Linked DNA regions of Homo sapiens: regions 2, 3, 4, 5 and 6 are each reported to be linked to region 1. Evidence: microRNA targets listed by miRTarBase, many of them from high-throughput screens and not tested one by one. Region 1 holds a microRNA gene; each other region holds the end of a gene's coding sequence.
Evidence for each region. The annotated mature microRNA hsa-miR-1-3p reads UGGAAUGUAAAGAAGUAUGUAU and lies in region 1 at 2,358-2,379, opposite strand. An mRNA with a match to its seed (bases 2 to 7 or 8) in the 3' UTR can be bound and repressed. Matches are read on the target gene's strand: a 7mer-m8 pairs with bases 2 to 8, a 7mer-A1 pairs with bases 2 to 7 and ends in A, and an 8mer does both.

Region 1 (4,092 bases):
TTGATTTCAATGTCTTGAGAGGGGTGTCTTCTTGCATAAAATAAAAGTTTGATAAATTATAATTTGCCTATAAAGTTAAGTGCTCTCAGAGAAATATAGAGTAGAGAAATATTCTTTACAGTTACTATTTTAAACTGAGAGGTCAACGCTAATTCAGGCAGTATGCAAATGACTCTTACACTAAGTATATTCTGCGTCTGTTGGTTGGTAAGTATCATACTGCTGGTGAAATTAACTACAATTCTTTTTCATCATTTTTTCTAGTAGAAGTGAAACAGGTGTTAAACTGCCTAAACTTAAGTGCTGAAGATAGCAATAATACTGGCTTCTATTTTTACTAGTTATATGGGAGCTGTTTAGCAGATCCAGTTGCTCAAGTGTGTTTTTGGATGGCAGTTCAGTTTCATATACTGGCCATATCGGGGCAAGGAGAGGCCATGGGAAAAAAATAGTACAGCATTTGATAATGTCAGCATCTGTTATCCCTGTCAGGGAGACAGTTGAAATGTTTGAGTTATACCAGTGTCAGCAGATGCCCAGAGTTTAATATGTACTCAGTTAAAAATGAACAGCTGATCTAAGTGATAGATGTGACATTTTAGAGTGATTGAAAATACTCTTAGATAAGTTAAACTCGCAAGCACCAGAATCAGCATATAATTTTACTTTTAAAAATGAATAGCCTGTCATTTTATTTTCTAAGGATTATTTATATAGTCTTAATATTATAGCAAAGAGAGTCTTAGTTGCTAGGATGTTTGAGAAGGATTATTAAACAACTTGTATACCTATAGAATGACCAATATAACTGTTTATTATAAAACACAAGTAGAGTAATAAGCTTTGAGTATTTTTATAGAAGAACCTCTACTTTTGAGGTATATATTTTGAGTTCTTGGTATTTAGGACCTATACAGGTAAACTTACCAAATAGAACATGAATCATTGCCATTCTGTTTTGTGGATGATCAGAAGGGCTATGCTTATGTGAGTTAAGCTTTGAACTAATTTCTTTGAAAGTGTAGAATTTTAAAATTATGTGCCTTTTATAATTTCCAGTAAACATGCAGTAACACATATGATGCCATGTGTAAGTCATTCTCATTCTTTATAATCTGATAAAATGAAAATCATCTTTGTATTAACTAGTCTTATTAAACAGAAAATGAACTATAGTTAAACTTAGTCATTTCCATTCAATTTCTGATACAAAAAATTTAAAATATTATGCTTTTATACATGTGTAAATATTTCAGTTGAAATAATACTTTTAGTAAGAAATGGTTAGAATATGTGAATATTACTCTTATTTTCTAACTTTGTCATTAGTAGCTTAAAACAGGTACTGCTTATAAATTTTGCTAAGAGCATTATTTGGAATTTTTTATAAATAATATACAAACTGTGTGAAATAAAAGTATTTTGATATTTCTAAACAATGGATTGATCAAGTTTAGAGAAATTGAATTGTAATTGCATAGTACAATAAAAACAGTTCTTCGATCTGTATAAATTGGTTCTTGACTATAGTGCTTTCATTTTACATGCCCTCTTTGGAGAAAGCAAATTCGAAGATAATACAGATAAATTAATTTCTTTTAAATATTTGGTAGTCTGTTACCAATATACCCTGCTGACTTACAGCTGTGGACCAGAATTTTGTCATTTTTCATGCTTAAATCTTACATTTTAATTAATTTTAAGTTTTAACTTCACATTTAAAGTAGAGATTTGGGTTAAGACCCTGATAAACTTGAGAAGGAAGGACAAGGGCCACTATGTTTGTAGCTGTCAAAAAAGAAAGCCTTTTTAAAACAACAAAACTTTTGGTCAGAAATTCCTCTAATATTAATTATACATTTATCAAAATGAGAAGAAATAGCTTATTATGTGAATGAAGCCAGCTCTTAGTATCTTATTTTTCTGTACAAATCAGTGAGCCCTACTAATGAGATATACTTAAGATTAAATTGTGGAGACAGAAAATAGGTCATGTGTATTCCTCATTCTTTTGTGCTAGTAATACTATTTTCCCTTTTGCAGTCAAATTTTAATAATGAGAGTGCCTAATTTAAAAATGTAAGATGTCTGTTTTAAACTTAGATGATTTAAAAGGAGTTTCATGATAATTGAAATCTACTTCACTGGATCTTCTTTTCCTTCATGAAATAAAAACCTTAGGGATAGTTTCTATCTATCAGTAGTAGATAACCTTTTTTTTTTGGTGTTAGTATTGCCAAAGGTCATCTGTTCATGACTAGGTTAATTTACCATATGACGGTCATTCACGTAGAAAGAAGCAAGAGCTTCTTTTAGCTCAGTTTAATTCTCCCTTGGTGGTTTATTGCCTACCAAAAATACATACTTCTTTACATTCCATAGCATTGTATGTTCATATGGGTACATAAAGAAGTATGTACTCTGAGTAGGTATTACTAAGTTGTTAGCTGTAAAAACATGAAATATTTTATTTTCTTATTTGTTAGTGAAACATTCAGCTTACTAATGTAGAGCAATGGTAAATCATTTGCAGAGACTAATTTATCGAAGACTAAATTTTGTAACAAGTTTACCTGAAGCATGGCATTAATGGTTCCATATTCTTGGTGGACATAGACATTCCTAAGCATTTGACCAGTTATCTGTTGAACTTTGTCCTGGTTTGATTCTTTTTGCAAGAGATTCAAAGAATCAGTGTAGTGTTACAGAGTGTATTTCGGAAACTTAAGATCAGCCTAGTGTTTCTTCAGTCTTCAGAGTGAATTTCTTCTTTTTTTGTAGTCTGCTTCTAGATCCTACAGGTAGATAGTAATTAATTAAATTCAATTTTTTTTTTACAAACTAGATATCTTACTCAAAACCTAACAAATTAACCAATAAGTATTTCTGATATTGACTCTAGAAGTTGAAACAACAAGGAGAAAAACCAGGATGAGTGTGGGTGAATTGAACTTTTTTAAAGATTATGAATTTTTGTTAGTGTTTTATAAGGTCACAGATAAGAACTCGTGATCATTTGAAAATTTGTCATTCTTTTTTCTTTATTAGTTCCTTACCTGAAGTTTGCACTTTGATGCTTCTCTTTGGGTTAAATACAAATATGAGTTGAATACAAATTCAAATAGATGTAGAAATATCTAATTTTGGTGAGTTTAAGTTGTTTTGATTCTTTAATCTTTTTAGTATAAAGGATAACTGTCAGAATCGTCAACTTTTAGAAAGTATCACTTCAAAGAACTGAAAGGTTTTAGTCTGTGAGCACCTGGGTTTTATTTACCTTGATAGTTTAGAATGAAAAGAAATTATAGTTGGTAAGTAGCCTTCAGTTATTGTGGTATTAGAAGGTTAATTTAAAACCTCAAGAAATTTTCAGATTTGTCAAAGGAGGAAAAAAAAGGGCAGGGATAGTAGAATTTCTGCAGCTTGTGATAAAAAGCTAGTGCAGCTTATAGAGAGCAAATCAGAATGTAGCAGTAGATAGCCCAGCACTACAGCAGTTTCAGCAATGCAGCATTAGAATTACACCATGCACGTTCTGATTTATTTTTGTGGCCAATTATTAGTAAGCATTAAAAAGTATTTTATGATCTGCCAAGTTTCTTGGTTGACTAAACCTTGAAATAGAAGCTAATAGTTTTAGAAAATAAGTATACTTTGGAAGCAGGATGTGACTTACTAGAGATGCAAAATCATCACTTAATCTGAAACAATAATGACTAAATCTTTAATAATGTAAATGACAATAATGTATTTGTACATTTTTAAGATAAAAAGTTACTGCCATAGTATCTGAACAATATTCCTTTTTACACTACATTAGCTCTTAACTTGAATTGTGAAATTAGGCTATGGTTAGATAGAATTTAATTTAACAATGAGAACATATATTGAGTCAATAATAGGTAAGCATGCAGAAAGTCATAAGCATCCTTAAAAGTACAGGCCTTATGGTGCTCTGTTACCTGTAAGCTTAGTGTCATGCAGCATTTGCAGCAGGAAGAAAGGTAGTAACCTAGAGAATCACATCAACAGCAGCCATCTCATCTTGATTGTTCGTTCACTCTATTTGCTGATTCAGCATTTCTTTTCATG
Region 2 (4,092 bases), not on the chromosome of region 1:
ACAGGGACAGAGCCAATGTGACGTCTAAGGGCAAGCCCCAGCCTTTCAGTTTAGTGACAACACAACAGTTAACAAAGGAACAAAAGTGCACCAGGTTAACCGCCGGGTCAGGAAGGACAGGCTTGCTTCCCTGGAAGTCTACGCAAGCAACCTGAATGCCTGGACAAGCCAGCTCAAAGGTCAGGCTGCCGTCTCTGTTGAGTCAGGACAAGTTGTCTGGCAAAGACCCCTGGGGCTCTGCATCACAGTGGCTGAGCTGTGGTATTTCTGTGAGCTGAGGGCAGCCCGTTATTTCAACAAGACCTCGTTAGAAACCACATATTCACCTGCCTTCCTTCTTATGAAACAAGATGCATCCTCAGGTTCACATCTTCTTGGTAGCACAGAGAGAGAAACAAGACCTGGTCTCTTAAACCTGTGAGGGGTAAACCCCACACAAATTACAGAGAGAAACACCAAGGTGAATTCCACTGTTGCTGAGACATTTTTATTGGCATAGGTTATATGTTTGTGTGTGTGTGTGTGTGTGTGTGTGTGTGTGTGTGTGTGTGTCTGCTTCATTTTTCTAATCAAACAAACAACTGATGTAAGCTGCCAAGGATGAAAAACAACATTACATGTCTGAAGCAATCAGACAAATCCACACAGAACTGTAGTCTAAGCCAGGGGACCAGAAAAGGGCCACATAAAGCTTGTTTCCTGAAAGCAGGAAAATCTTTCTGTCAGTGGGAGAATAAGACACAGTCTGGTTCTTTTGATTATTTGTTCCATGCACACATTGGAGGATATTTTAGAAATTCATCCATTGAACACATTTTTATTGAGCACCTATTATGTGCACCAGACACTGTTCCAGGCACTGGCGATACAGTAGAAGATAAAACAGACAAAAATACCAGCCTTACAGAGCTCCTAAAGCCTATATTCCAGTGAAATCAAGATAGGAGAACTTTTCCCTTAAGTTTAAGGTAGTTAAAAAAAAAAATAGGAGAACTAATTCATGGAGAACATGGCCAAGTTATGAGCCAAAGCACAATTCCTCTGAAGAGTACCAAAACAAATTCTCTCTCTATTGCTTAAGTCAGAAGGAAACAATGAAACCCCTGAGGGGTCACCACAAAAGACAGAGGCCCCGCTGAACCCCCGACCCATGCTTGAGAAAGCCAGGGCCCACTCTCCCTCTCTCAAACAGTTTTAGGGTAGAGAAGTCAATGCTTAGGGCTCCTCACTGGGAGACACAAGGGCATTTTAAAAGTCTGTCCCCAAAACAATGGCATTTCCAACCAGAGTAAAGCAATGGTTCCAGTGCAAATCTGCTTCATGAAGACAAATGTCTCTCAAATATGAAATTCAATGAAGAAGAACATAACTTGCAGGTAACAAAAAATAAAGACTCATGAAACTAAAATTAAAATGTTTACAGAATAATAGCATAAGATATTAAAATGAGAATATAGAAAAAGATTTGTGCTTAGGAAAATACTTAATTCTTGGCCCAAAGTCATAAAATAGAAACTTACTATAAGGTAATTTGGCAGTTTAAAATGCAGACAGATAACCTCTGATTTACAATTTCTATTTTTCGAATGTAGGACAAATTTTAAAGTATTTAGTAAAACTTGGTTTTATGTAACAAATATACAAAGTCTTAGAGGAGTCTTTGGGCCTTCACTAAACAGAACAGGACTTGTTAGATTTAAAAGAGGTTGTGAACAAAATCAACAATTCAAAAACCAAAAGGGTAACAAGCAAACCTCATAGCAAGATGCACTGAGAGAAAAATAAACTATGGGAAAACCCCCTTAACCAAAAGTCATGAGACAAGGTGAGTTTGATTATGTGAAAAATAGTTGTTTTTTTTTGAGATGGACTCTCGCTCTATGGCCCAGGCTAGAGTGCAGTGGCGCGATCTCGGCTCAGTGCAACCTCTACCTCCCAGGTTCAAGCAATTCTCCTGCCTCAGCCTCCTGAGTAGCTGGGACTACAGGTGTGTGCCACCACGCCCAGCTAACTTTTTTGTATTTTTAGTAGAGATGGGGTTTCACCATGTTGGTCAGGCTGATCTCGAATTCTTGACCTCAAATGATCCCAAATAGGTGCTTTTTAAAAAGGGCTTTAATACTGTTTAAGTAGTTCAAATAGGCTTCCTCACTATTAATTTGCTTCAGTAAACTCTTCAGCTTAACTCATTATCTTAAATTTCAGAATTAATGAGGTTTTACTGTAAAAGTAGAAAAGCAAACACTTCAAATGATAAGACTCCAGTATCACCCATACTAAAAACTTAGCAATAAAACTGCAGTTTGAAAAGCTACTGTACAATGCAGCAAGGACTAGGTGTCAATACTGCTGGAAGCAGAGCCAGGTAAAGAACAGGAAATCTGCACAGTATTATCCCTGTGGTTCTTAGACTCATTCGAAATACAGAACTGCAATCTCACAATGAAACAAACATACTGCTTATTAGGAGGCACTACAGTTAAAGCTTTTTAGAAAAGAGAGAGAAGTATTTTTAAATGTAGGCACAGTGGTGAGCTGTTCAAATTCAGTTAGGCGTCAACATCACACATTAGCAGCAAGATGCAGCCACACTTCAGGTTTCTGAATGACATGAGTACAGACAAAATTGAGCAAATAAAAACCAAAACAACCACTACATTAACCCTGAGCTTCCACATTCCCCTTTCACATGAGACTAATGCAGACCATCATAATTCAGGAAAATGTGGCTTTCATTACGGTCAAATCTCAACATGTCTCCCGAAGAGTTTATAAAATAAGTTATTCTAAACATGTACATTTAGCTTTGGAATGATGGAGAGACACAGAGATATATGTAAACGTCAAGAGAATCACTCCACTCCACGTCTGGGTCCACACCCTTCCAGGCTTTGTCTGGAACATTATGTGGCTGGTGCCTGATTCCACAGTGAGGATGCAGGAGCCCAGGTGGTGATGGATAAAGCATTAGGAGACAATCAAGTGTCAGGAATTGGTCAATAAGAACGGCTTAAATAATGATTTAACAAGGAAGACGAGTAAAAAACAATCCCATTTCATCTTTAGAAAGAATTAAGTCACTAAATGATTTCTTCTAAGTTGTTGCCATTTGCTTGGATGAGATCTTGAAGGTTTTCCATTCTTTCTCCACCCAGTTAAGAACACATTGACTAGAAATTTGTGACAAGAATCTAGTAAAGGCCTTTTCCCTCCTGCTCCTCATTATGCCAATGCAAGAACTGGAAAATTCCAAACAAAATCAGGTTAGTGGTACAGAAAGTTCACGAACGATCTATGTGAATATTAAGCACAATAACAATGATCCAAACGTATCAAACTAACAACTTCTCACTGTGGTTACTGTCTTTACTCAGCCAGGCTAATCAGAAGTGAAACTTTAAAAACTGGTTAAATTCCAAACGAAAAACTATTCTTACCAGTGAGAATCGTATTTCCTACCCAGTCCTACATGTAACTAAGAAAAATAGCCTGCTCACTTATGAGAAAATGGTGGGCCAAGAGGGTTCTAATCAGAGAGACACCAGCATTCCAGGAACTTACTACCCTCCCTGTTTCCCATAATACTTATCATCCTACCCACTTAACACCTCTCACATAATAGAGATAAATCCCAGTTAACCAAGGCATAAGCTGCAAGGCAAAAGAAGGAAATACATACCACTTATAGCTTCCTGTGCAAAGTATTTGACATCCATGTCTTCATCTTGACCTAACTTCTGTAGTACTGGCTTCACTTCTCCCTGTAAAGCACTGACATTCAAAAGTATTATCTGTGAAAGACAGTCTAATGGGCCATAGAAATCCTTTTTGGTGTATATGGTTAATGGTAATTGTTAAAATTTAAAGTAAAAAAATAAAGACATTTATAAACTTGACAAATACACAAAATAATGTCTAAAGAAATTCTCAGCAAAATCAGCTTCAGACAAGGATCTACACATTTACAGAGCTTAAATATAAAAGTCATAGTGGACATCCTCAAAAATAGTTGCTAAATTATTTTCTTTAAGCAAACCCAGATCTTAAGTAAAGTGAAAATCCCTGAACTTAATTTTAGCTAATTACTCCCCA
Region 3 (4,092 bases), not on the chromosome of region 1:
TATTATGTTTTTTCCAACCTACTAAACTGAAGTTAACTTTTGTTACACCCTGCTATATTCCAGACCTAGAAAGAACATTGCCTTGTCCTTTGGAGGTGTTCAATAATGAATGGAAATTAAGTTATTGAGATCAAATACATATCCCAAAAGTATATTTTTGTTTGTTTGTTTTTTGTTTTTAGTATAGACGGGGTTTCACCATGTTGGCCAGGCTAGTCTCGAAATCCTGACCTCAGGTGATCCACCCGTCTCAGCCTCCCAAAGTGCTGGGATTACAGGCGTGAGCCACACTGCACCCGGCCAAAAGTATAATTTAATAGTGTCAGCCTAGTTCACACCTGTAATCCCAACACTTCGGGAGGCCGGGGGGCAGGCGGCAGGGGGGATCCCTGAGGTCAGGAGTTCGAGACCAGCCTGACCAATGTGGTGAAACCCCGTCTCTACTGAAAATACAAAAATTAGCTGGGCGTGGTGGCATGTGCCTCTAATCCCAGCTATTTGGGAGGCTGAGGCATAAGAATTACTTAAACCCAGGAGGCAGAGGTTGCAGTGAGCCGAGATGGCACCACTGCACTCCAGACGGGACAACAGAGCAAGACTCCATCTCAAAAAAAAAAAATACATAAAAAATAGTGTCAAGTGAGAGAATATTTATCTCCATCTGAATTCATTGTAATGTTTTATGTCTGATTTTTAGAGTGAAGATGAAGCTGGATGTAGCTCAGTTGATGAAGAAAGTTACAAGACTCTGAAGCAGCAGGAAGAAGTATTTCGAAATTTAGATGCTCAGTATGAAATGGCAAGATCACAAACCCACACACAAAGAGGAATGGGTTTGGGTTTCACATCTTCAATGCGAGGAATGGATGCAGTTTGAAAATGATCACACTTGTAAAGTTTGGGACTTATAGACTTCTTGTTCTGATGTCACGTCCTTGTTCACCAAACAGCTAGCACTCTAGCTTGCATGGGTGTTGCATTGACTTTAATTTATTGAAAAATACAAATTTTTGTAAATATCAGATCAGTGATACTGGTGTTAGTGTTGTAATCAGGTTAAACCCACTTCCATTAAACTTGACAGGACTATAGAAGGATAATATTTTTTAGTTCATGAATTCTACTTTTCAAATATATAAAAGCTGCAGGTGGGGATAAAATCTCATACATGGATTTTTTCGTGTCCGCTGTCTTGTGTACTTTTGTACTTAACCTTGTACAGTTATTTTCATCTCTTGAAACATGAAAGAAATGTTATGTAGATGTTCTTTAGAAGATCTGGCCATTTGGTACATAATCCAGCACAGATAAGCTGGGTGGTAATGATAATAAAAATGGTTTTCTCAAAACTGGTGTTAATTTAAGTTACCTGGGATGTTTCTTTGAATTTGTTTTATAGTTTCTGTAGCATTTGGCAATTGCTGTTAGAAAACACTAGCTAGAAATCCCCTCCCCACCACCCTTTTTAAGGCCAGTTAACTATACTACAGTCAATACCGTGGTGAGCAAAAATGTAAAAGGTGGAAGGAGAAAACTTACTAAAATAGTATGTTTTCCTATTATAAGGGACAGACTTGGTATTCAGTATTTGTCAAATATTACATGTGTTATTCAGGAGATAGATTAATGCATTAAAGGGATGTAAGCACTTTTATTTTAATAAAGTGCCTTATAACAAGTTCTTTGCATGCTTTTTGCTCATTATCCCTTTGAAGTCTTCTCCAGCATAGACTATAAAATATTAAAATATTAGAAATTTTTTTTGTTTGTTTTTTTGAGACAGGATCTTGCTCTGTTGCCTAAACTGGGTGCAGTGGCACAATCTCGGCTCACTGCCAGAGCCTCTGCCCCCCAGGTTCAAGCAATTCTCCCACCTCCACCTCCCATGTAACTGGGATTACAGGCGTACCACCGCACCCAGCTAATTTTTGTATTTTTAGTAGAGGTGGGGTTTTACCATGTTGGCCAGGCTGGTCCTGAACTCCTGACCTCAGGTGATCCACCCTCCTCAGCCTCCCAAAGTGCCGGGATTATAGGCGTGAGCCACTGCAGCCAGCCTAGAAAATGTTTTGTTACTAGATTGAACATAAATCTGGAGCCAAGGGGTGGGGGGGGCCTGCAAAACTTGAAGTTAATTTACTTCAGTTACAGCAAAGTAATAAGGTTTGGCTTTCCTTTGAAAAATCCTTTGGAAAACATCACAGAATGAGAGCACATTACAATCAGGGAAGACTACAGGAATAAGATTGACAGCCTTATTTTAAAAGCTGGAATTAAGTCTTGCCAACTTGCTCATTAGGTATTTTTTTTATACATGAAAATGAAGTAATGGGGTGTTTTCTTTTTTTTTGCTTTCTGTCCTAGGCTGGAGTGCAGTGCATTGCAGCAGGCTCCCCCAGGCTCAAGCAGTCCTCCCACCTCAGCCTCTTGAGTACCTGGGACCACAGGTGCTCACCAACACACCTAGCTTGTTTTTAATTTTTTATAAAGACAAGGTCTTGTTACGTTGCCCAGGTTGGTCTTGAATTCCTGGCCTCAAGCAATCCTCCCACCTCAGGGCTCCCAAAGTGATGGGGTTACAGGTGTGATCCACTTCACCTAGCCAGATTGTAAGATTTTTAATGTACTTTAATAAACCTTTCATTTTCCCAGAGCACAGAAATTCTATGGCAAAATGGCTTTTCACCGTGTTTCAGTGACAAATCTAAGCCTTCTAAGGAAATGACACTATGGATCCTTCATTTCGTGATCATCAACATTTTTCAATTAAGCTCTGCCTTTTTAAATCAATCTTATTAAAAATGTTCATGACCTTCTAAGGCAGTGTGGACGCAAAAGCTTCCTGTGTGTCTACAGTTATTTTAGGAGCTGACCATACATGATGAGTGATACAGCCTGTACTTTGCTCATCTAGAGCAGCACTGTCCAATAAAATATGTGTGTATATGTATATTGGTCCAAGTGATCTTCCCACCTCACTCCCCTGAGTAGCTGGCACCAAAGGCCCATGACAATGTACCTGAGATGGGGTTCTCAGGCTGTTGGCCAGGCTGGTCTCCCACTCTTGGCCTCAAATGATCTGCATCATCTCAGCCTCCCAAAGTGCTACCTGGGATTCAGGTGTGAAGCCACAGTGCCTGGCCTAAGTATTTTATTTCAATTTCTTTTTTGAGTAGCCAAATGCAAATAATTAAAAGATGAAATTACAGTTGTCCCTTGAACACATGGGTTTGAACTTTAGGGTCCACTTACATGCAGAATTTTTTTTTCTTTTTTTCTTTTTTTTTTTTTTGTGAGAGACTCTTTTGCCCAGGCTGGAGTGCAGTTGCATGATCCTAGCTCACTGCAACCTTTGTCTCCTGGGTTCAAGCAATTTTCCTGCCTCAGCCTCCTGAGTAATTGGAATTACAGGCACCCGCCACCACGCCCGGCTAATTTTTGTATTTTTCGTAGAGACGGGGTTTCACTATGTCAGCTAGGCTGGTCTTGAACTCCCGGGTTACACCATGTTGGCCAGGCTGGTCTTGAACTCCTGACCTCATGATCCACCCGCCTGGGCCTCCCAAAGTGCTGGGATTACAGGCGTGAGCCACCACGCCAGGCCTCATGCAGATTTTTCAGTGAAAGTAAACCTGGGAGGCGGAGGTTGCAGTGAGCCGAGATCATGCCACTGCACTCCAGCCTGGGTGACACAGTGAGACTCTGTCTCAAAAAATAAAATTTCAAAAAAAAAAAATTTAAATGGCCAGGCACAGTGGGTCATTCCTGTAATCCCAGTATTTAGGGAGGCAGAGGCAGGAGGATAGCTTTAGCTCAGAAGTTCAAGACCTACCTGGGCAATATAGGGAGATCCTGTTGTCCACAAAAAGAAAAAAAAAATGTTAAAATGTGTAAGTGACTTCCCAATGTTGTAAACGGAAAGAGGCTTCCTTAAGGGCCTTTGAGCACTGACCTAGCAGTGTTCCAACCTCATCTTGCTCCACTCTGCCTTTTCACTCAACATGGTGGTCCTTACACCTAAGACACTCTTCCATCCTCCCACCCCCAACTTTGCCGATCCTTAAAGTCTCACTTCCTCACTTTACTGACTCC
Region 4 (4,092 bases), not on the chromosome of region 1:
CACCTCCTGGGTTCAAGGAATTCTCCTGCCTTAGCCTCCCCAGTAGCTGGAATTACAGGCACCCGTCATCATGCCCGGCTAAATTTCTTTTTTGTATTTTTGTAGAGACGGGTTTTCACCATGTTGGCCAGGCTGGTCTTGAACTCCTGACCTCAGAAGACCCGCCTGCCTCGGCCTCCAAAAGTGCTGGGATTGCAGGCGTGAGCCACCAGTCCAGGCCAAATTTTTCTATTCTACTGGATATATTTACATTTCACTAGACAGAAGAATATATATTTCTGATAATCCGAGATTTTTCAAAGGTGTCCTGGTCACCATATTTATTTTTGAGATGGGGTCTTGCTCCCTCAGTTAGGCTGACTGCAGCGGTGCGATATTGGCTTACTGCAACCTCTGCCTCCCAGGTTCAACGGATTCTCCTGTCTCAGACTCCCGAGTAGCTGGGATTACAGGCAAGCGCTACCATGCCCGGCTAATTTTTGTATTTTTAGTGAAGGGTTTTCATCAGGTTGGCCAGGCTTGTCTCAAACTCCTGACCTCAAGTGATCTGCCAGCCTCGGCCTCCCTAAGTGTTAGGATTACAGGCCTGAGCCTCGGCGCCCGGCGCTGACCACCATATTTAAAATTGCAATTCCATCCCCCTTCTCTGGTACTCCCTATTCCTGATTTTTCTCCAAATTCCTTCTCAAAATTTGACATACATGGATTTTACTTACTTGTTTACTGTTTGTCTCCCTTCACTAAGATGTTTCACAAGAGCAGGAATTTTTGTCTGTATACCTAACTTATATTTCATTGTAAGGACTCAGGAAGTATTTGCTAGATGAATGATTAATGTATAGTCAGGAGAAATTGTATCCTTTAAATTGTATCCTTTAAAATTCAAAGATGAAGACAAAACACATTGTTCTCCATTCCCACCTCCAGTTTATTATTTCTTATGTAAACATGTAAGATAGTTACATCCCAGGAAAAAGGGCAAGTGTTTTTCTCTGACAACGAAGTAACAACTACCTTTTCAAGATCTTTTATATGTAAATGGAGTAAATGAAGAGGCTGAACTCAAACACTTTTCATTTTTCTGTCATATCAGAAACATAAACTAAATGTGAATATGTTAAATGAATAAATTCTATACTTTGTCATACCTGAACTTTAAAAAAAGATTCCATTTTCCTGAAAATTTTTAGACATATCATGCAAACAGACACTCTCCTAGGAATGTTTGGAGATCATTCCGTGCTACTGAACAGGAATAAATAATATAAATAATAACCATCACTTTCACAAAACACCCCTCCCCCAGCAAAAATCTCAAAGTGCTCACAAAAAATTTTACAACAATCTTACAAGGCACACATAAAACTTAAACATAGTTTCAACCAATTTTTTTTCAAATATCCAAGATAGTAGATACTAATTCTTAAAAAATCAGAGTACTATTCTTTTACCCTCTCCTCCCATCTCCATCCTTCCCCCTTCCCCCCACGCCATTTTATAATAGGAAGCAAAAATAAGAAAAGTACTTCAATCACTAGTAAACTATTTCTGAAAAGAAAATATTTTCACACCAACAAATGGCCAATCTTAGGTCAAATGGAAGCAATGAACTATGAATGAAAAATTAGCAATGAGCTATCACACTTTCCAGTGGAAAAAGATCCACTAATTAGAAAAATTATGTCTCCAATGGAGTACTTAAGTAACAAAGTTCATAAAGACACAAAACCGTCCTCTCTTGCTTTCCCCTCTTCTGTTCTCAGGAAGAATTAAATACAAAATCATGGAATTTTAGACCTGGAAATGATCTTTCAAATGACCAAGATCAAAGTTATTTTACATATAAAGTTAAAAAGTTCAAGGAGAAATTCAGCACAATGTCGCTAACTAGTAACATTGGGTTATGAAGTCGGTTTTTTCATCAAACGAGACCTGCATTCTTGAAAGTCTCAAGGAAAGTTAAAATTCAGTGGAGAATGTCTTTCCCACAAAATTGTCAAAAAAAGGTTAACACTTATAACAACGAACATGTGATTCATTCATCACACAATTTTTATAAATGGTACAAAGTATATTACATTTTAAAATACAGAAGGGCTTCAATAGAAATTAAATACAGTAGAAATTCTACATAAAGCTAAGTTAACTAGAGGAGGACTAGAACAGCTTCAAAGAAAGATGCATCTAGTCAGTCTTCTTTACGAAAAGCAGTTCCTGTGTTTTAGAGAATATTATTTGCCCTGCAGTATATTTTAATCTTTGTTAAAATAATTTATAAAAGTTTTGTGTTATATGTAGACGGAGATGTTAGAGAACTATGGCTCAGAACACCATCTCAAATATGACTCTCGCTAAAATAATCATACAGTCATAGTTTTCCTTTTGGCATATTTTTGGAAATATAAAACTCTAGGGATGGTTAAGATTTTTATCAACACATAGTGAATGGAAATTACATTAATGTAAATGAAAAAATACAACACTAATAGCTACACCTTTTTAAATTGCTCATCTAGTAACAGCTAGAATATATATTGCCAATTCAAAATTTAAAATGACATGGATGAACCTCAAAGTCATTATGCTGGGTGAAAAAGCATTTCAAGAGGGAACGTACTATAAGATTCTGTTTATATGACAGTCCAGAAAAGGCAAAATAATAGTGACGGAGAACTGTTGCCAGGATTAGAGCTAGAAGGAGCTGACTACAAAGGGACAGCATAAGAGAGCTATTGGGAGTGAAGGAACTGTTCTGTACCGACTGCAGTAGTGGTGCACAAATCTTTCTGTTAAAATTCACAGAACTATACACCAAGAAGAAATTTCAATTTTACTTCATGTTAAATAAAAAATAAAATAGAGAGGAACTTTTAAAACAGTAGAACAGATATCCCTGGTAAAGGTAGAATTTCTCATTTTTCACAGCTTCATGCCAATGGTATAATTTTACTGGCCACAAAATTATTAAATCCGATTGTATTAAATAAAATCAAGAAACTCGGGCCCAATGAACCATTTCTTAAGTATGTATACTAATAAGGCATGGAAATAAAAGTATTTTAAGGATTATTAACCCTGTATAAAAAAATTCTGCTATTCCCAAGTGAATCTGAATTGTTACTTTATACATTTTAAAATGAAAAGTATCTTGGTGTTTAGTTTGGAATCCAAGAACAGCTGGTAAAAAGTTAAAAAAAAATTTTTTTAGTGCCATCTGTTCTAAAGTGACTAGAAACAGGTAATAGTGTTTTTACCTTTATTTTCTCTTCTTGTTATCCTAATTCATTAAAGTTTTTATATGATTGGATTTTATACTTAAATCAATTACCTAGAGACTCCAAATCGGAATCTGCAAATACTGCTGGATCCTTTGTCACTAGAATCAAGAATATATAAGAGAGGAACACTATTTCTCTAGGGATACTACTGAGACTTATATGTAAGGTATGAGATGAGACAGAATCCCATCAGCTTTACTGTGCCTCCCATAACTTTGGAACTGTTAGAAGTTCAGAAAGAATGATTATGTGTAAGCCGACAAAATATAAGAAACAAAGATTGGGGGGATGAAATATTACAAATGCTGCATCTCTACAGAAAGACTTGCGTAATAGAATAATACAAACTTTATATAACAAGTCTGTGATTATAATTATAGTAGACTTTGCCTTTTGAGATCAGGCCTAGATAGTTTTTCACCACTGCTTCTGCCATGGACAGAGGTTAAGTGCTTTTTGAGAGCAGACTTGTGCTTGAAATCCATATCACAACAGTGGCATTTGTATGGCCGATCCCCACTGTGTATGTTCAAGTGGTCCTGAAGTGTGCTTTTGGCAGTAAATGTCTTCAAGCACACAGTACACTGAAAGGGCCGTATGCCCATGTGTCCTCGGATGTGTCGGTTGAGATTTTTCTTCTGTGTAAATGTTTTTCCGCACTGTAAGCATAAGAATAGTTTATGCATTTTAAGGTGGCGCAGATAGTTTTCAACATGAAGAAAGCCTCGAGGACACCTGGGGCACTGGTGCCTCAGTGAATAACCTTCCTCCAGATTCTGAATCTCACTCACTGTACCATAACTTCCTTCAGTAT
Region 5 (4,092 bases), not on the chromosome of region 1:
CTCATTGGAAGAGAGAATGCTAGATCTACCCAGTACTGCTAGGATATTTCATAAAGGAAGTAGAAAAGGGGATGATGGCTCACGCCTGTAATCCCAGCACTTTGGGAAGCCGAGGCAGGTGGATCACGAGGCCAGGAGATCAAGACCATCCTAACAAACACGGTGAAACCCTGCCTCTACTAAAAATACAAAAAATTAGCTGGGCATGGTGGCGGACGCCTGTAGTCCCAGCTACTCGGGAGGCTGAGGCAGGAGAATGGCGTGAACCCAGGAGGTGGAGCTTGCAGTGAGCCGAGTCACGCCACTGCACTCCAGCTTGGGCAACAGAGCGAGACTCCATCTCAAAAAAAAAAAAAAAAAAAAAAAAAAAAAGAAAAGGAGATGAGAAAATGAAAGGAAGATAGAGGTAAAAATACAATTTGTATGTTCACACTAAACTGCCGTGGGTCCTTATAATCAGAAAATTTCGTAGCTGGAAAAGAGCTACCAAGAAAACTTGGGGCCTAAAGGTTAAGTTACTTTTTCTTTTTTCCCCCGAGACAAGAGTCTTGCTCTGTTGCCCAGACCTAGAGTGCAGTGGCATGATCTTGGCTTACTGCAACCTCCACCTCCTGGGTTCAAGCAATTCTCTTGCCTCAGCCTCCCAAGTAGCTGGGATTACAGGTGTGTGCCACTATGCCTGGCTAATTTTTGTATTTTTAGTAGAGATGGGGTTTCACCATGTTGGCCAGACTGGTCTTTAACTTCTGACCTCGTGATCCACCCGCCTCAGCCTCCCAAAGTGCTGGGATTACAGGCATGAGCCACCGCGCCCAGCCATAAGTGACTTTTTCAAATACCCTCAGCAAGTTAACGGCACAGCTAAGGTCTTTTGTACCCCAGTCTAGTTTCTGACATCCAAACCAATGCTTCTCAACCACAGTTACAGGTAAGAATTACCTGGGGCCTTTAAAAATCCCTATGCCCAAGCTATATATACTCCAGACTAAATTAAAATCTTGGAGTTGTGGGACTGAGGTATCAGTATTTATTTTTTATTTTTTAGCAAGAAGAGGAGCACAGAGAATATTTTTTTAAAAATATAGAGCACTTCGGCCAGGCGCCAGTGGCTCAGGCCTGTAATTGCAGCACTTTGGGAAGCCGAGGTGGGCGGATCACTTGAGGTCAGGAGTTCCAGACCAGCCTGGCTAACATGGTACAACCCCATCTCTACTAAAAATATATTTTAAAAAATGAGTCAGGCATTGTGGTGAGCACCTGTAATCCCAGATACTTGGGAGGCTGAAGCATGAGAATTGCTTGAACCCAGGAGGTGGAGGTTGCAGTGAGCTGAGATTGTGCCACGGCACTCCAGCCTGGGCGACAGCGTGAAACCCTGTCTCAAAAAAAAAAAAAAAAAAAAAAGTATATATATACATACACACAGAGAGAGAGACAGAGAGAGAGAATTCATGAATTTGCAAGTCATCCTGGTGCAGGGGCCATGCTAATCTTCTCTCTATTGTTCCCATTTTATATACGTGCTGCCAAAGTGGGCACTGTATTTTTTTAGTTTCTAATGTGAAGCCATGTTAAAAACTGCTGTCCTAGATTGTGATGCTCCCAATGATAATCAAGGCACAGATAAGGAGAATTCTGTGAATAGGTTTATTAAGACCACCTAGGAGAACCTCTTTGGCAACTACCACAAATTCTAGGCCATTTAAAATCCAGGCCAAGTTCATATTTGCTCTCCATGATCACCATTACAACAACCACAGGTCACACAGTATTACAGAACAAAAGCATGGTCACTTTATTTTACCCAAATGCAAATCGTTTTTCACAACCAAGACTTTTTTCTTTCCTACAATGTTACAAATGATGTATCCAAGTCCGACTGTAATTTGGAGTTAAACAGGGATCATAGAACCAAGGAATTATCTCTGAAGCTGCTCTTTGGGCCACTGTGCCACCCCAACAGCTCTATCCTGTTGTTCTTTTTTTTAATTAAAAAATCATTAAAAAAAAAATGGAGATGGGGTCTTGCTATACTGCCCAGGCTGATCTTGAACTCTTGGGCTCAGACGTACCGATATACTGATCCTCCCGCCTCAGCCTTCCAAAGTGTTGGGATTACAAGTGTGAGCCATTGCACTCAGCCATCTCTACACACTGTTTTTCAAGGAAAGGCAGCTACACCTATTCCGTCTCCAAACCAACCCTCACCTGGTGTCCAGTTTTCTTGGAAGTCTCAATTTTTCTCATGACAGCACATTACCTAATACCTACCACATTAGGATGTTAACTCATAAAAACATACTACAAAAGCTTTAAAAAACATTTATTTGTATTAAGTAAGTGCAACAGTGCAAAGAAACTTATGCATTTGGGCCCTTGCTTCCCTACTGTTCACATTAGTTTAGTTTAGAAGATTAAGTATAATAACAGAAGGAGAACAGAAGAAATGAATATAAATATACTCAGGGTAGCCAAATCCTCTAATTCACTAAAGGATGAACCAAAGTTGTTGGCCAGATTCACATTTATGTGGGAGCCTAAACAAATTATGTTCCCTTTAACTGTTCTAGGCCTGTGGAAAAGGGAAGTGGACAACATTTATATTACAAGACAGTAATTTTATTGAAACATCTTTTTTTGTCTAAAACTATGCATGGAGATATTAATCTCTTGTTTATAAATTAGGTTAAGTCTAACATCACTATTTGAAACCAGTGTTATTTACAAAAATGAACCTCTTCTTTGCTTTATTGTTGGTTTACAGGAATAATTTTAAACCAACCTCAATCTATCTTTAAAAATCTTCCTGCCTTCAAATGCCCAGCAACCCTTATAAGGTAGGGGGCAGCCCTTTGACAGCAACATTCATCATTCACCAGGAATGTAGAACCACAAGTGAACAACAACAACAACAACAACAAGATTAAATCATTCCCAACAATTCCTATTTGCTTTTCCAAAGCATGCTATGTCTAATTCTGCCTTTCTATGCAGACAGGTGGGAGAGGGAGCCCATAGAGTATATTAATGTTAATTAAATTAACTTCCTTTAAAAGCTAACAGGATGGCTTAGTGTGGATGAGGATGAACTGCTGTGGATGACACTAGCAGATAATGAAGTAAACTTTAAACCCAGATTAGTAACATGTACTCCAGTAACTGACCAGCTCAGATAGAGACTTCTCATTTACTCTGGATCACATGTACAATATTTTACCTTCCAATTAAATATAGTGCCAAAATCTTTCAAAATAGATAGAGAATAGGCTTCTTAGAAATTCAAATAAAAATGTTAAATAATAAAAACTGGTGGCCTATTATAGAGTTTCTGACAGACTCCAATATACTGGGTACCAGAAAGTAACTCTATCTCAGATGCTAGTAAAAAGGTAAATTTTGTATATACATAAAAGACAATATTACGAGACTGTAGTGTCATTTGTCAAAACAAGAATATCTAGAATGGAATTTTCAGTAAACACTTGGGATGAAGGGCAATCAGAATACAAGAGGAAGCAAAATCCACATAAGTTAATTCCTAATTTGAGAAATCAATAGAATCAATAAATTGATAATTACTGTCTCCATAGGTCACGAATTCCAAAGACTAGTTAGTAGTTAGTTTCTAACTAAATGATTACAGGACGTTCTGATATATGCTGTCTTCTTGTGATCAGTTTGTTCTGGCAAGACTTCAACAAGCACTTGCCCTTGAAAACAGCTCAGCGGGAGAACGATCGGAGGCAATCACTTCGTTTTATAAACTAGCCAGATAATAAGTCCCAAGATTAGAATAATCACTGACAGGACAAGCACCAGGATACACATCTTCTTGCGAGATTTTTTCTGAGGAAAGAAATATGTAAACAAGATACTCATGAAACAAGTAAAATTTGTATGTGTAAGACTCTAAGAATGCTTCATAAATCTGCCTCCTTGTAATTAAAGATTAACTCTATCCATGCAAAATTATGCACAGACTTTCCCAGAAATCTTAAGTCAGCAGCACTAGGTAGTAGTGCAAGTGTTTTTTGTTTGTTTGGTGTTTTTTTTTTTCTTGAGACAGAGTCTCACTCCGTCACCCAGGCTGGA
Region 6 (4,092 bases), not on the chromosome of region 1:
TCTACTAAAAATACAAAAAATTAGCTGGGCATGGTGGCGGGCGCCTGTAGTCCCAGCTACTCGGGAGGCTGAGGCAGGAGAATGGCATGAACCTGGGAGGCGGAGGTTGCAGTGAGCTGAGATCATGCCACTGCACTGCAGCCTGGGTAACAGAGCGAGACTCCATCTCAAAAAAAAAAAAAAAAAAAAAAAAAGAAAGAAAGAAAAAGAGACCAGCCTGTGTTAACATAGCAAGACCCCATTTCAAAAAACAAAATTATATTGAGTACTTCCTACTAGCAGTAGTGGTGGGAGAGGAGGCTGGTTCAAATAACCTTGTCTACCATTATTGAAATGGAAGTCCTTATGATTCTATTTTCATGAATGTTTTGTTCTTGTAGCCAAAGTAGCAATCAGTGGAGGTTTCCAGAAACTTGAGAACCTAAAGCTTTCAATCAATCACAAGATTACAGAGGAAGGATACAGAAATTTCTTTCAAGCACTGGACAACATGCCAAACTTGCAGGAGTTGGACATCTCCAGGCATTTCACAGAGTGTATCAAAGCTCAGGCCACAACAGTCAAGTCTTTGAGTCAATGTGTGTTACGACTACCAAGGCTCATTAGACTGAACATGTTAAGTTGGCTCTTGGATGCAGATGATATTGCATTGCTTAATGTCATGAAAGAAAGACATCCTCAATCTAAGTACTTAACTATTCTCCAGAAATGGATACTGCCGTTCTCTCCAATCATTCAGAAATAAAAGATTCAGCTAAAAACTGCTGAATCAATAATTTGTCTTGGGGCATATTGAGGATGTAAAAAAAGTTGTTGATTAATGCTAAAAACCAAATTATCCAAAATTATTTTATTAAATATTGCATACAAAAGAAAATGTGTAAGGCTTGCTAAAAAACAAAACAAAACAAAACACAGTCCTGCATACTCACCACCAAGCTCAAGAAATAAATCATCACCAATACCTTTGAGGTCCCTGAGTAATCCACCCCAGCTAAAGGCAAACCCTTCAATCAAGTTTATACAGCAAACCCTCCATTGTCCATGGTCAACAGGGAAGGGGTTGGGGACAGGTCTGCCAATCTATCTAAAAGCCACAATATGGAAGAAGTATTCAATTTATATAATAAATGGCTAACTTAACGGTTGAATCACTTTCATACATGGATGAAACGGGTTTAACACAGGATCCACATGAATCTTCTGTGGGCCAAGAGATGTTCCTTAATCCTTGTAGAACCTGTTTTCTATATTGAACTAGCTTTGGTACAGTAGAGTTAACTTACTTTCCATTTATCCACTGCCAATATAAAGAGGAAACAGGGGTTAGGGAAAAATGACTTCATTCCAGAGGCTTCTCAGAGTTCAACATATGCTATAATTTAGAATTTTCTTATGAATCCACTCTACTTGGGTAGAAAATATTTTATCTCTAGTGATTGCATATTATTTCCATATCATAGTATTTCATAGTATTATATTTGATATGAGTGTCTATATCAATGTCAGTGTCCAGAATTTCGTTCCTACCAGTTAAGTAGTTTTCTGAACGGCCAGAAGACCATTCGAAATTCATGATACTACTATAAGTTGGTAAACAACCATACTTTTATCCTCATTTTTATTCTCACTAAGAAAAAAGTCAACTCCCCTCCCCTTGCCCAAGTATGAAATATAGGGACAGTATGTATGGTGTGGTCTCATTTGTTTAGAAAACCACTTATGACTGGGTGCGGTGGCTCACACCTGTAATCCCAGCACTTTGGGAGGCTGAGGCGGGCGAATCATTTGAGGTGAGGAATTCGAGACCAGCCTGGCCAGCATGGTGAAACCCCATCTCTACTAAAAATACAAAAATTAGCCAGGTGTGGTGGCACATGCCTGTAGTCCCAGCCACTAGGGCGGCTGAGACGCAAGACTTGCTTGAACCCGGGAGGCAGAGGTTGCAGTGAGCCAAGATGGCGCCACTGCATTCCAGCCTGGGCAACAGAGCAAGACCCTGTCTGTCTCAAAACAAAAAACAAAACCACTTATATTGCTAGCTACATTAAGAATTTCTGAATATGTTACTGAGCTTGCTTGTGGTAACCATTTATAATATCAGAAAGTATATGTACACCAAAACATGTTGAACATCCATGTTGTACAACTGAAATATAAATAATTTTGTCAATTATACCTAAATAAAACTGGAAAAAAATTTCTGGAAGTTTATATCTAAAAATGTTAATAGTGCGTACCTCTAGGAAGTGGGCCTGGAAGCCATTCTTACTTTTCAGTCTCTCCCATTCTGTACTGTTTTTTGTTTTACTTTCGTGCCTGCATTATTTTTCTATTTAAAACAAAAATAAATCTAGTTTAGCACTAAAATATTAACTGGAGCTACCTCTGGAGGGCAAGAGTACTAGAAGGTGGGATGGATTGTCTTCTTGCTTGTCTGATTTTATATGTAATACCTTTGTAATTAGAAAGGTTGTTAAGCATTATATCAGAATCCAGTCAGGAGACAGAAACCACACAGAAATTTGAATGGGGAAAGTTTAATATACAGATGCTCGGCCTGACGCAGTGGCTCACGCCTGTAATTCCAGCACTTTGGGAGGCCGAGGTGGGCAGATCACTTGAGGTCAGGAGTTCGAGACCAGCCTGGCCAACATGGTGAAATCCTGTCTCTACTAAAAATACAAAAAAAAATTAAAAAAAAAAAAAAAGCCAGGCATGGTGGTGTGCACCTGTAGTCTCAGCTACTTGGGAGGCTGAGGCAGGAGAATTGCTTGAACCCAGGAGGCAGAGGTTGCAGTGAGCCAAGATCGTGCCACTGCATTCCAGCCTGGGTGACAGAGCAAGACTCCATTTCAAATAAATAAATAAATAAATAAAATAAGATGCTCCTCAACTTACAACAGGGTTATATCCTGAAAAACCCATTGTAAGTAGAAAATATTGTATGTCAGAAATGCATTTAATATACCTAAACTACCAAACATCATCGCTTAACCTGACCTACCTTAAACACGCTGAGAACACTTATATTAGCTTACAGTTGGGCAAAATCATAAACACAAAGCCTATTTTATAATAAAGTATTGAAAATCTCACGCAATTTATTGAATACTGTACAGAAAGTGAAAAATAGAGGTCGTATGAGTACTTGAGGAACAGTTTCTACTGAATGCGGATCACTTTTGCACCATTGCAAAGTAGAAAAATCCTAAGTCAAGTCATCATGAGTTGGGGACTGTCCGTAAGAGTTATTAACAGAGGATTGGAATGGGGATTGGGTAGTAAGGAATAAAGAGAAGCCTGGGCAGATGCAGGGAACAGCCGATATGGGCTTTTCACCCCAGGCTGAGACAGAACAACTCAAAGAAGAAAGCTCAGGGCTGAGATCCGGGCTGAGATCCAGACTTCGTGTGAGAGGACACAGCTGTGAAAGACAGAGGTTTGCTGAGGCTGTGGAGTTGCAGCTGGAGAAGGTGCTGGGCTTGGGGCACTTTGCAGAGAAGGGACCTTGTGCATGTCAAGGGAAGCCATTCATGTGGGGGTACTGTGCGCTGCTGACCATTGGGTGCTGCTGAAGTTAGGCACCGCCCAAGAAGTGTGCAGCCAGAACGAGGTGCTGCAGAGGCAGAGTGTATGTGCTACAGGAGCTGGTATTGCAGATGGCACAGGTGTTGCAGGTGTCTGCCTAGAGGAGCACAATGGAACCAGGAAAAGCAGCCCTTGCCCCTTCAGTGTGTCAGCAGCACCCTCGATTGACAAAGTTTCACTCTGTGCTTACTGTCATGGGAGAGGTATTTACAGGGCCCAGATCTATTATTACAGAACAGACAATGAAGACTGAATGTGGATATAAGAGGCAACAACTAGCATAACTCATTAAATCTAATAGTGCACACATAAACACAAAATAACCTAGTAATTTCTTAATATTGACTGACAGGATATATGCACGTGATGTATTTATAAATTCATGGAAAACTTATATAAAAAACAGGCAACCATAATTGAGTTTAGGGAGGAGAACAGGATGGCTGGTGGACAGAAAAGGGAGAGAGGGAAGTTTGCTTTTTTTCTCCTGCATACCCTTTT

Region 2: miRTarBase lists PPP2R1B as a target of hsa-miR-1-3p. Seed matches in the 3' UTR shown: 7mer-A1 at 2,808-2,814.
Region 3: miRTarBase lists RSRC2 as a target of hsa-miR-1-3p. The part of its 3' UTR that is shown has no 7-base or 8-base seed match.
Region 4: miRTarBase lists ZBTB6 as a target of hsa-miR-1-3p. Seed matches in the 3' UTR shown: 7mer-m8 at 1,219-1,225.
Region 5: the mRNA of STX12 is a reported target of hsa-miR-1-3p. Seed matches in the 3' UTR shown: 7mer-m8 at 2,879-2,885.
Region 6: the mRNA of NAIP is a reported target of hsa-miR-1-3p. Seed matches in the 3' UTR shown: 7mer-A1 at 1,344-1,350 and 7mer-A1 at 1,971-1,977.

What each region holds. Positions count from the first base shown.
Region 1 is chr18:21,826,658-21,830,749 of GRCh38, forward strand. It overlaps MIR1-2 (microRNA 1-2), which reads right to left and starts at 2,431; the gene lies at 2,347-2,431. All of the region lies in intron 12 of MIB1 (MIB E3 ubiquitin protein ligase 1), which reads left to right. It overlaps MIR133A1HG (MIR133A1 host gene), which reads right to left. Exons shown (of 3, transcript NR_110369.1): 2 at 3,963-4,092; 3 at 1-2,795.
Region 2 is chr11:111,738,374-111,742,465 of GRCh38, forward strand. PPP2R1B (protein phosphatase 2 scaffold subunit Abeta) reads right to left here. Exons shown (of 15, transcript NM_002716.5): 14 at 3,680-3,771; 15 at 1-3,239. The coding sequence ends at 3,223. Among named protein-coding and RNA genes, the nearest start is that of PPP2R1B, 26 kb to the right of the region's middle.
Region 3 is chr12:122,502,312-122,506,403 of GRCh38, reverse strand. It overlaps RSRC2 (arginine and serine rich coiled-coil 2), which reads left to right. Exons shown (of 10, transcript NM_023012.6): 10 at 698-2,950. The coding sequence ends at 877. Among named protein-coding and RNA genes, the nearest start is that of ZCCHC8, 3.4 kb to the right of the region's middle. RefSeq lists a silencer at 2,135-2,335.
Region 4 is chr9:122,907,146-122,911,237 of GRCh38, forward strand. It overlaps ZBTB6 (zinc finger and BTB domain containing 6), which reads right to left. Exons shown (of 2, transcript NM_006626.6): 2 at 911-4,092. The coding sequence ends at 3,653. Among named protein-coding and RNA genes, the nearest start is that of RC3H2, 3.8 kb to the left of the region's middle.
Region 5 is chr1:27,821,985-27,826,076 of GRCh38, reverse strand. STX12 (syntaxin 12) reads right to left here. Exons shown (of 9, transcript NM_177424.3): 9 at 1,634-3,846. The coding sequence ends at 3,748. It also overlaps the pseudogene RNU6-1245P. Among named protein-coding and RNA genes, the nearest start is that of PPP1R8, 6.8 kb to the left of the region's middle.
Region 6 is chr5:70,966,757-70,970,848 of GRCh38, reverse strand. NAIP (NLR family apoptosis inhibitory protein) reads left to right here. Exons shown (of 17, transcript NM_004536.3): 17 at 381-2,683. The coding sequence ends at 745. Among named protein-coding and RNA genes, the nearest start is that of SMN1-AS1, 36 kb to the right of the region's middle.